3 linked regions of the Homo sapiens genome follow. The protein of the gene in region 2 purifies or fractionates together with the protein of the main gene of each other region. This does not show direct contact. Each region holds a gene or a part of one and is shown on either strand. Other genes may lie near its edges. The genes, in order: NEMF, KLK12 and RABL6.

Evidence for each region.
Region 1: the proteins of KLK12 (region 2) and NEMF purify together in Homo sapiens (affinity purification with mass spectrometry; one large-scale study listed by BioGRID and IntAct). This does not show direct contact.
Region 3: the proteins of KLK12 (region 2) and RABL6 purify together in Homo sapiens (affinity purification with mass spectrometry; one large-scale study listed by BioGRID and IntAct). This does not show direct contact.

Annotation. Positions count from the first base shown.
Region 1 is NC_000014.9:49,828,752-49,832,396, reverse strand, and holds part of NEMF (ribosome quality control complex subunit NEMF), read left to right. Parts: intron 1-119; coding exon 120-190; intron 191-270; coding exon 271-346; intron 347-1,035; coding exon 1,036-1,098; intron 1,099-2,970; coding exon 2,971-3,048; intron 3,049-3,134; coding exon 3,135-3,343; intron 3,344-3,589; coding exon 3,590-3,645. UniProt on the Homo sapiens protein: Key component of the ribosome quality control complex (RQC), a ribosome-associated complex that mediates the extraction of incompletely synthesized nascent chains from stalled ribosomes as well as their ubiquitin-mediated proteasomal degradation.
Region 2 is NC_000019.10:51,032,147-51,036,343, reverse strand, and holds the start of KLK12 (kallikrein-12 isoform 2 precursor), read left to right. Parts: upstream 1-1,341; 5' UTR 1,342-1,538; exon of another isoform or gene 1,539-1,549; intron 1,550-1,703; 5' UTR 1,704-1,722; coding exon 1,723-1,759; exon of another isoform or gene 1,760-1,919; intron 1,920-2,204; coding exon 2,205-2,364; intron 2,365-4,197.
Region 3 is NC_000009.12:136,824,908-136,828,552, forward strand, and holds part of RABL6 (rab-like protein 6), read left to right. Parts: intron 1-871; coding exon 872-919; intron 920-3,586; coding exon 3,587-3,639; intron 3,640-3,645. UniProt on the Homo sapiens protein: May enhance cellular proliferation. May reduce growth inhibitory activity of CDKN2A.

The sequences.
Region 1 (3,645 bases), on a different chromosome or scaffold from region 2:
ATATACCACTGCACTCCAGCCTGGGTGATGGAGCGAGCGCGACTGTATCAAAAAAAAAAAAAAGAAGTAAATCTTTGTTAATTATGAATAGGAATGATTTTAATGTTGCATTTTTGTAGGGATATATCATTCAGAAAAGAGAAATAAAACCAAGCTTGGAAGCAGATAAACCAGTTGAAGACATACTGACGTAAGCATATAGGCATGGGTCAATTTGCTTTGGATGTTTGTTAATGTTCTCGAATGTGATATAATAAATATGTTTTACAGGTATGAGGAATTTCATCCTTTCTTGTTTTCTCAACATTCACAATGTCCATATATAGAATTTGAATCATTTGACAAGGTGGGTTTTCCGTTCTGTTCCTTTACCAGTTAGTTAGCATGATATGAGCTGTTGATATCAACTTGCTTCTATTGAGAAACTGAAACTATACTTGCTTTACATTCACTGTGAATCTGGGCATTAAAGATCAGTGTCGTCACAGATACAGCTGTTGGAAATAATTGTTGCCACTTTATTTCAGGATGAAGGACCAGAGGTTTGAACTTCATTTGATTCTTGATACTGTTTAGCCATATAATACATTTACCGGAAATCTGTTCAAGTTCTTTGAGTGGTGTTATGAAACACAATGGAATCTAAAATTCTGTGTATGCAGCTGGGCTTGCTGGCTCATGCCTATAATCTCAGCATTTTGGGAGGCCAAGGCAGGCAGATCAGTTGAGGTCAGGAGTTCAAGACCAGTCTGGCCAACACAGTGAAACCCTGTCTCTGAAAAACTACAAAAATTAGCGGTGTGTGGTGGGGTGCACCTGTAGTCCCAGCTGTTTGAGAGGCTGAGGCAGGAGAATCACTTGAACCTCGGAGGTGGAAGTTGCAGTGAGCCTAGATCGCGCCACTGCAGTCCCGCCTGGGCAACAGAGTGAGACTCTGTCTCAAAAAAAAAGAAAAAAAAAATAAAATTCTGTGTATGCAAGTTGAAGTAGAGACTGTGCTTTTTTTTCCAACTAGTTGTTTGTTTTTTTAATAAGGCGGTGGATGAATTTTATTCCAAGATAGAAGGCCAGAAAATTGACTTAAAAGCTTTACAACAGGTATGTATTATTAAAAACACATATTAAACCAGCTAGTCTTTAGCGGCTTGATGGGTAGATGATATAGGAAAGGGTAGCCTTTCAGAAAGAGTGTAAGAAGTAGTATGGGAACTCTCTGACCTGCCTCTTTATTTATGATAAAGGTTTATGAAGAAGGTCCATGGGGGATTTTATTGTTGAAAAGTATGTCCTCATTTGTTTCATGAGTATTTCAGATATTCTGTAAAAAAAGGAAAATACGGTGGGAACGTGAGGCCTGTTATTTACACCTTAATGTGGTTTGCTCAGAACAACCCAAAGCTTCTCAAACATTGCTGTTAAGGAGATACTGTTTTAGGGAGATTTTAAATAGGCCAGAGGAGGGGATATTGTTTATCATTAAACTGTTTCTTTTTTAAATGGACTTTAAAGCCAAGTCTTAATATGTTTTCTGTGTATCATGACTCCAAAAGAAGTGATATACAGTATTTTCCCAGCACATTTGACCATGTTTTTAGAGCATTTGCTGCAGAACAGTTTCATAAATTGTTAATAGTCACTCTTGATTTGAAGGGGATTTGATTTTTTCAAAAACAGTCTTAAAATATGTGTGCAAAAATTTCAAATTATTTGAGGCTGGGCGCGGTGGCGCACGCCTGTAAATCCCAGCACTTTGGGAGGCCGAGGCGGGCAGATCACTTGAGGTCAGGAGTTCAAGAACAGCCTGGCCAGCATGGTGAAAACCTGTCTCTGCTGGAAATACAAAAATTAATGGGGTGTGGTATGGGTGTCCAGCTACTCAGGAGCCTGAGGCACAAAAATTGTTTGACCCTGGGAGGCGGAGGTTGCAATGAGCTGAGACTGTGCCACTGCACTCCAGCCTGGGTGACAGAGTGAGACTCTGCCTTAAAGAAAAAAAAATCAAATTGTTTGAATCCCTGTACCACTTCCTCTTCAGTTTTTAAAAATTAGTTAATCATAGCACAATTTCAAAGCAGGTAGGCCAGTCAGATGAATTATATACATCATGTAATTACCACATGGTGGCAGCACTTTGGCTAGTAAACTGAACCCCATGGTTTCATGGGTGTCAAAATACTAGTGATTTATTTTGGTAATTATTTTGTGGGTTTTAATAGTCATCATTCTTATCTAAATTTTAAAAAATATTTCATCTAGCATTTAAATACTCATTAATTGATGATATTACTAGTGTTAGAAATTTTGTCCCCCAATTGATAACCTTGAAATGTAAAGTATATATGATAAAATGCCAAATAACTACCATGAGCCTTTGTCTTATTAATTTAGGGGAAAAAGTTTCTGTAAAATACTGGAAATAGTTGTGAGAAAATCAAAAGTAGCAAAAAATACAAAGTCATTTGGTAATTTATGCTCTTTGGGAATTCATTCCCTGCCAGGTGCAGTGGCTCAGGCCTGTAATCCCAGCACTCTGGGAGGCCAAGGTGGGAGGATTGAGCTCAGACATTGGAGAGCAGCCTGGGCAACATAGCGGGACCCGGTCTCTATTATTTAAAAAAAAATAAAGAATTCGTTCTCCCAAACTTTACTTTTGTGCCATAGGAAAAAATGTCTTGATTTCTGCCTGTTTGAATAATGCCAAGGGTATTAGGGGTATATCTTATATACACAGTAACCTGTAATCAAAATACCTTTCTATATAAGGAGTGGGAGTTAGGAAGACAGGAGAAGTAATTTTGGGGCATGGAACGCATTGTAGTGGGATAGGCCTAGGGTGGTAGACTATGGGAACTTCAGCTAGCTAGATAACAGCATAGATGGGGTCAGGATAGTGAGTGTTGGGAAGTAAGAGAGGGATGTCATGAGGTAGGAGAAATCTAATTTTTAAAAAATCTGTTTTGCCAATAAAAGGAAAAGCAAGCATTGAAGAAATTAGATAATGTTCGAAAGGATCACGAAAACAGATTGGAAGCTCTTCAGCAGGCTCAGGTATTATGTTTGGCTTTCTCAGTGCTTTTTCAAAAATGTTAACTTTAACTGGCAATGTAGTAAATGTGTGTGGTTTGTTTTTTAAGGAAATAGACAAACTGAAAGGAGAGCTCATAGAAATGAACCTACAAATAGTTGACAGAGCCATTCAGGTAGTTCGAAGTGCTTTAGCTAACCAGATAGATTGGACAGAAATTGGGTTAATTGTGAAAGAAGCCCAGGCTCAAGGAGACCCTGTTGCAAGTGCAATCAAAGAATTAAAACTACAAACAAACCATGTTACAATGCTGCTAAGGTAAGTTTGACTCTTAGTCAAGCAGTTAATGCTTGTCTTTATTTTGTTATTTTAATTGTTCACTGTATTAAACATTTTTTCTTCATATTTTGAAATTCTCAAAGAAAGGGAAAAAACTAATTTAGATTAAAATAAATAATGAAACTTCCAGTACTGTAAACCATTTATAATTTTATTGAAGAAGAAAATTGAAAATAAAAGTGATGTCATTGACGTTAGTGAAATGCTATTGAATATTTTTAATAGAAATCCATACTTGTTATCAGAGGAGGAAGATGATGATGTTGATGGTGACGTCAATG
Region 2 (4,197 bases):
ATCTCGGCTCACTGCAAGCTCCGCCTCCCACGTTCAAGGGATTCTCCTGCCTCAGCCTCCCGAGCAGCTGGGATTACAGGCATGCACCACCACACTCAGCTAATTTTTGTATTTTTAGTAGAGATGGGGTTTCACCATATTGACCAGGCTGGTCTTGAACTCCTGGCGTCAAGTGACTTGCCCGCCTCGGCCTCCCAAAGTGTTGGGATTACAGGCGTGAGCCACCGCGCCTGGCCCTGACTGCTTTTCTCTTGGTTTGTTTCTCAATCCCCCTTCCTCTGAGCCGAATTCCCTTTTTGTTCTCATTTTCTCTCTCTGTCCCCTCTCTCTCTCCTTCTTTCTCTCCTTCCATTCCTCCTAGATGAAGCAAAAACTCAGATAAACCAGCACAGAGGCCAGGTATGGTGGCTCACACCTGTAATCCCGGCACTTTGGGAAGCCAAGGCAGGCAGGTTGCTTGAGGCCAGGAGTTCAAGACCAGCCTGGCCCACATGGTGAAACCCCGTCTCTACTAAAAATACAAAAATTAGCCGGACATGGTGGCACGTGCCTGTAATCCCAGGTACTCAAGAGGTGGAGGTTGCAGTGAGCGGAGATCACAGCCCTGCACTCCAGCCTGGGTGACAGAGCGAGACTCCATCTCAAAACGAAAAACAAAAAACAGCACAAAGTTCCCTTGTCCTGTGACTCATTCTCTCTCTCTCTTTCTACCATTTCTCCTTCCCTGTGTCTTTTTTTTTTCTCTCTGTGGGTTTTATTTAAGCAATAGAAGTTCTTAGCAAAGAAAAACTTTATGGAATTAGATTGATCCACTTCATATGTACATATATGAACTCAGTTCAGAAACTCTCTTCTACCCCTGCCTGATCACCTATTTGGAAGTCTGTTCCTTCAACTCTTCTTCTCTTTCTGGGACTCTTTCTAGCTTGGGCTTCCTGCCCCTCCCGTCCACTCTCCTGCTTTCACAGCCTCTCCTTCCCCCTGCCCCTCCCCTGCACTGCATGGGGATGGGCCCCAGGTGTCCAAGGTCTCCCCACCCTCCTTTGTCACTGGAGTCAGGATTAGAACCCAGCTCCCTAGTCACCTTGAGTCATCAGTCCTGGGGCTGCTGACGGGCTTGCAGAGGAGAGAGGGAGTGGGGCTGGGTCTTCCCACCCTGGGTCCTTTCCTCCTTCCCCACTCCGTTTAGCTGTAAAGCTCAATTAAGTGTGATTAGCTGAGAAGAGTTTCTGCAGAATTAGAGCACGCCCCACCCCTGTCTTCGTGGTCCCCTTCCCTTAACCCGGAAACTGGATGGGCCAGGACAAAGAGAGTTAAGAGCTTTGTCAGTGGTCTGTCTGGAGCGACAGATGGAAGGAAAGGGACCGGTTGAGCAACATGACAGGTGGCTGAGGAGCCAGGTGCAGAGTGGTAGAGTTGGCTGGCGGAGTGGCCAGCACATGAGAAGACAGGCAGGTAGGTGGACGGAGAGATAGCAGCGACGAGGACAGGCCAAACAGTGACAGCCACGTAGAGGATCTGGCAGACAAAGAGACAAGGTGAGAAGGAGGTAGGCGACTGCCAATGAGGGAGTGACACACAGGGGAGCAGGTAGAGAGAGGACAAGCAGGTCATCCCCTTGGTGACCTTCAAAGAGAAGCAGAGAGGGCAGAGGTGGGGGGCACAGGGAAAGGGTGACCTCTGAGATTCCCCTTTTCCCCCAGACTTTGGAAGTGACCCACCATGGGGCTCAGCATCTTTTTGCTCCTGTGTGTTCTTGGTGAGTTCTCCCGGAGCAGGGAGAGGGCAGGACTGCGACTGGATCCCTTCACCCCCATGAGGAGGCCCCACCACCCTCCCCATCTCAGCTCTGGCCCCCAGCCTGGTGGTGAGGAGGAGAGGGGCTTTCTCTGTGCCTCCATTTACCTGCAGCTCTCAGGGTACTGCTCACCTCGGTCTCCCCTATTTTTTGATCCCTCTTCCCTTCTGTCCCTCTCTGAATCTCTGTCTCTCCATTTCCCTCCTATGTGTAAGCATCTTTCTCCCTGGGTGTCTTTGATGTTTCATGGTCTTTTTCTATCACTGGGTCTCTCTCTCTTTCTCTCTCTTTCTCGTCTCTCTTTCTCCTCTCTCTCTCCTGCCTGTTTCTCTCTCTCACTCTGTGTGTCTCTCCATCTCTGTATCTTTTCTTCCTCTCTCTGACCCATGCCCCTGTCTGTCTCCAGGGCTCAGCCAGGCAGCCACACCGAAGATTTTCAATGGCACTGAGTGTGGGCGTAACTCACAGCCGTGGCAGGTGGGGCTGTTTGAGGGCACCAGCCTGCGCTGCGGGGGTGTCCTTATTGACCACAGGTGGGTCCTCACAGCGGCTCACTGCAGCGGCAGGTAAGTCCCTTCCTGGGGTGGGCGAAGGGAGGACTATGGGAAGGCAAGCGCTGGGGGTAGGATCACAAGGGAGGGTGGTGCCCACTGGGAAGAAGCTGATCCTGCAACAAGAGAGTCTGAGGTTAGACCAGGAGTGGAACTTCCTTAGCAGTGGGCCTGGGGTGGTGCTGGGCAGGGTGAGGTATGTTGGGTGGAGGGCCGGGGAGGGTCCTGGAACCTGCCCTCCTGCCTCTCCCATTCCTGCATGTACCCTTTCTTTCCTATATGACATCTGCCACTCACCCCAGCCATTCCTTGACCCAGTCTGGGCCCGGGGCCCAGGTCTCACCCAAGCTCTTTTTCTTTTTCTTTTTTTTATTTTTTTGAGACAGGGTCTCGCTCTGTCGCCCAGGCTGCTGTGCAATGGCGTGATCACAGCTCACTGCTGTCTCTGCCTCCCAGGTTCAAGTGATTCTCCTGCCCCAGCCTCCTGAGTAGCTGGGATTACAGGCACCCGCCACCATGCCCAGCTAATTTTTGTATTTTTTGTAGAGACAGGGTTTTGCCATGTTGGCCAGGCTGGTCTCGAACTCCTGGCCTCAAATGACCTGCCCGTCTTGGCCTCCCAAAGTGCTGGGATTACAGGTGTGAGCCACTGCACCCGGCCAACATGACCCAAACTCTTTGTGCAACTTCAGAATCTATGCCTGGCACCTCTCTGGGCCTCAGTAGACTGATGTTCTGGAATTTTTTTCTTTTTCTTTCTTTTTTTTTTTTTTTGGAGACAGAGTCTTGCTCTTTCTGTCATCCAAGCTGGAGTGCAGTGATGCTATCTTGGCTCACTACAGCCTCAACCACCTGGGCTCAAGTGATCCTCACACCTCAGCCTCCCAAGGAGCTAAGACTACAGGCCTGCGCCACCACACCTGGCTAATTTTTAAATTTTTTTTGTAGAGACAGGGTTTTGCTATGTTACCCAGGCTGGTCTCAAACTCCTCAGCTCAAGCAATCTTCCTGCCTTGACCTCCCAAAGTGCTGGGATTACAGGCATGAGCCACTGTGCCTGGCCTGGAACTTTTTTTGTGAAAGGGGAGATCAGATGCAAAGAAACAGAGACTCAGGGAGAGAGAGGGCCAGCAGCAGGATGCAGAGAGGCCATTCATCAACCCACTCGTTCAATCATGAACCCACTCGTCCACGCATGAGCATGGAGGGCACATGCTCCGTGCCAGGCGGTGGGAATAAGGCAGTGAACAAGGTCCACTGATGTCCCTGCCTTCATGGGCTTCACCAGCCGAGAGAATCAGAAAGAGAGGCCTGGCGCGGTGGCTCACACCTGTAATCCCAGCACTTTGGGAGGCCGAGGCGGGCGGATCACTTGAGGTCAGGAGTTTGAGACCAGCCTGACACACATGGTGAAACCTTATCTCTACTAAAAATACAAAAATTAGCTGGGCATGGTGGCATGCTTCTGTAATCCCAGCTACTTGGGAGGCTGAGGCAGGTGAATTGCTTGAACCTGGGAGGTGGAGGTTGTAGTGAGCCAAGATGGTGCCACTGCACTCCAGCCTGGGCGACAGAGCGAGACTCGGTCTTGAAAAAAAAAAAAAAAAAAAAAAGGAGAGAGAGAGACACAGATGCAGGGACATGGTAGGAGAAACAGGGAACACCCAAGATGGAAAGAGGGTGATGGAGGTTGGGAATAAGAGCCTGTAAGAGAGACTCGGAGAATGAGAGTTGCGGGTGAGAGGACAGACAGTGAGGGGCAGAACAGTGGGGAGCGGCAGGAGCGCCTGAGTGTCCGTGGAGGGGTGCAAGGTGGGGGACTGCGTGCCTGCCACCCGCTCAGCCGTC
Region 3 (3,645 bases), on a different chromosome or scaffold from region 2:
CATGCCCCTCTGCTCAGGCGACGTGGATGTGATTGGTGTGGGGGCAGATGCCTGGCTGTGTGAGGGCCCCGGGCGTGCCTCTCCCCTCTGGTTCTCCCTTCCCCTTGGAATCCTTGGGTGGGCGGGAGGCTCCATCCATCAGCTCCCCCAGTCCCCAGCACGCCCCACAACAGAGCACAGTCATGGGAGCTCAGGAGGAGTGGTTGGCACCAGCAGGCCCAGCTGCGATGGTGCGGTGTGAGGCAGGCCTGGGGCCTCTCAGGTGGCTCCGAAGGGAGGGTCCGGCCTCCGCCCTCAGTGATTACTTAGATTCTGCTCCCTCAAAGTGAACTAGAGGCCAGTCACTGGATGAAGAAACAGGGTCAGAAGGTGACACAGGCGGGCCCATTCATTCGCACCTGTCAGCAGAAGCGTACTCCATGGGCAAAAACACAGACATCGACCCAGCCAGGAGGGTCCCCTTCCAGTATGCTGAGGCCAGGAGGGGCCGTGCCCAGGATCGGGGCCCGGGAGGGAGGGGCCGTGCCCAGGATCGGGGCCGGGGAGGGAGGGGCCGTGCCCAGGATCGGGGCCCTGGAGGGAGGGGCCGTGCCCAGGATCGGGGCCCGGGAGGGAGGGGCCGTGCCCAGGATTGGGGCTGCGGAGGGAGATACCGTGCATTCAGTTTGTCACTGAAGCTGTGTCTGAGCGAAGGCCTGAAGGAGCCGCCATGTGGTCGTCTGGGGAGGACACATCCCCTGCTTCTGGACACTCGGAAGTCCTGGTGGGAGCCGGTGGCTGCGGGGCACAGACAACCACACCAGCTGGACCGCTTTGTGCCACCTTGGGAACTTCATGTTGGGCACTAATTTTAGGATTCTCCCTGTTTCAGCCACGGATGACATCGTGAAGGTTGAAGTCTGGGATGTAGTAGACAAAGGTGAGGCGTCTCTGTTCTGTGTCTGCTTCTCTCTGGGACTGTGTGCTCTGCGCAGAGAGGCTTCCTTTCTTTCCCCCGGCGCCCATGCATCACCCACCATCCTCGTGGACGGTGCCCAGGGTCTTGCTGCTCTGCTCCCCTCCACATCCAGTGGCGACCCCGCAGCGTGGCGCAGCCCCTCCTGTGGCACTGCATGCTTTGCTGCTTTAGCATACTCCCCGTCTCTGAGTGACCGCGTGCACGGTGGCGGCAGGTGCAGCCGGGGGGTGTGCTTTGAGCCCCAAGGCCCAGGGTGCTATTTTGGGAGCCCTCCTCCTGCACTGCCTGGCGGAGTAGCCCAGCACCAGGCGGCCCCCTGCCCATAGCTGAGGACCCAGCTCCTGCGCTCCTGTCCCTGCCAGGGATCCCCAGCCACACAGACCTGCACTCTGGGGACCGTGGGAGGGCAGCACCAGCCCCCGGGGTGTCCTCGACATCGTTGGTCTCCTCCTCAGCCACAAGGTCATGAGTTCCTCTAAGTCCTCAGGGTGGAGCTCATGGCCCTCCCCGGGGCCCATGGTCCGTGTGCATGTGTGGTGTGTGCAGGGCTGGCCACGTGCACGCCCCGGCCTCACAGGCCTGGCTGTGGCCTCGTTACGAGGCTCTGCTGGAAAGGCGGCCGCCGCCTCTGTGTGATGGTGTCTGTTCGGATGGCGCATGCTCCCCTCCCTCCACCTGTGCTTTGTTGGGGTGGGTTTGGCCATGGGGGGTTAGAGGCAGGTGCTCATGCAGTTCCCGCAGGGGTGCTGGGCCCCTGCGGCTCCCACCACATTGCGCTGGACTCTTGTGGCCCGTGCTGACCTGGTGTTCCAGATGCTGTCTCTGCAGAGCTCTGCGTGGTCTCTGGTGTTAGAGAGGTGGCCACCCACCGCCCTATCATTGTCCTCATCCCCACTGTGAGGAGAAGCTATCAGATCTGCCTGTGGCCCCCAGGTGGCTCAGGAAGGGCCGTCCTGACCCCCATCCTGGCCCCTTTCGGAGCTGCAGAGATTTCCTGTGCCTCCAGCTCTGGCTTCCTGGGTCTGTCCTTGGCGTGGAGCGGGCACAGGCTTCCCGTAGACACGGTTGCCCAGAGTGGGGTTCATAACTGGGCACTGTAAAGGGTGTGGTCTCCACGGCTTAGGATGGGCCCCCCCTTCCTGGTGGCCTGCTGTGCCCGGGGCTGGTGTGGAGGCCTGTGGGTGCAGAGGCCGCCTGGCCCTGGGCTTCCTCTGGGGTTACATGTGTACCCTTGCACCCACCTGTTAGCACCCACCGGGAGAGTCTCACTCAGCCTAAACCAGGGCCCCTCAGGAGGAAAAGGTCCCCAGCTTCATGATGGGGCCCAGTGTGCCTTCCATCCCCGCCCTGACTCAGTGCCCACTGTGCGAGGTGTGAGCACTGTCCACAGCAGCCAGGGCGGCCGGTGGGGAGTGCATTGGAGGGGGTTGAGGTCTCTTGGGCACCTGGTGAGTTCTCAAGGGTGAGAGGAAGCCGAGGCCATCAGGCTTAGCTGACGCTGCATGGGGCAGGCTGCCAAGAGGGAGGCTGAATGGAGCAGCCTCAGGTGAGCCGACAATCCTCACCTCCGCCTGGTCAGCCAGGACCCGGCTCCCCTCCAGTCCCGCCTGCTTTCCCCAAAGCAGATCCAGCCAGTCTCAATGGCTCGCCCGGGGGGTGCTGGTTAGGCTGTGAGCATCCTTCCTGGGTGCAGGCCCCCGACAGCCAGCAGTGCTGTGCTGTGTGTGTGTTGGGGACTCTGCTGAGCCCTTTGTGGCCAGACTGGGGAGGCTCCTCCGGGCTGGCTCTGTCCCCTGTACCTTGTGAGGGAGGGGCTGACCCCCTGACTGGGTTACATCGTGGTGAGCAGTTCAGAAACAAGCTGTGGAATGAAGTGGACGTGGCGTTTTAAACACATGAGCCCCATCTGTTCTTAGGGGTTTTGTTTGTTGTCCCAGTCCGTGACTCCAAGACTGGGACCCCCAGAGTTCCCAGGATGGTCTGGAGCCTTTATCCTCAGGTCAGCATTGTGGAGTTAAAGGGAGGGGACCACGGCCCCTCATTCTCAGGAGAGCCATGGTGACCTTGATGGCGGAGGCTCAGGGGGACCTGGACCGTGGACACCACACAGCTGCCCTCCTCCCTCCCGAGGCCATTTCAGGGCTGGAATCCCTGCCCCCCTCTCCTTTCCTCCCGGGCTGGTTGTTGCCTTGAGAGTCCGTGCGCTCATCTCCCCACTTTTACCCCAGGGGGAGGCCCCTCACCTTCCCACCATATCCCTTGTACTTCCTCCCACCCTGGACTTGGGGGAGCTGGGGGGAGGGGGCCCTTCCTTCAGCAGCAAACCCTCCTGGTGTAGGGCTGTAGGCCATCCCACCGCAGCCTGTCCAGGAGCTGCTGAGCCTGTCAGCCCCAACTAGCACCTCCTGTCCAGGCCCGGCCCAGCCCTGCCTCCAGAGCCTACAGAGGGGCCTCGCCCAGGTCCTGCTGCTCCAGAGCTTGTGGGTGCCCACGCTGCAGGCTGTTTGGGGTGGTGGAGTAGAGCACCCGCTGGAGCTGGGGGCTGAGTGGCCATGGGGGGACCATGCTCCTCCTATGGCCCAAGGCCCAGGGGTTCCACCTCGTAATTTTTGTTTGTTTTTAAATAAGGAAAATGCAAAAAGCGAGGCGACGGCTTAAAGATGGAGAACGACCCCCAGGAGGTGAGT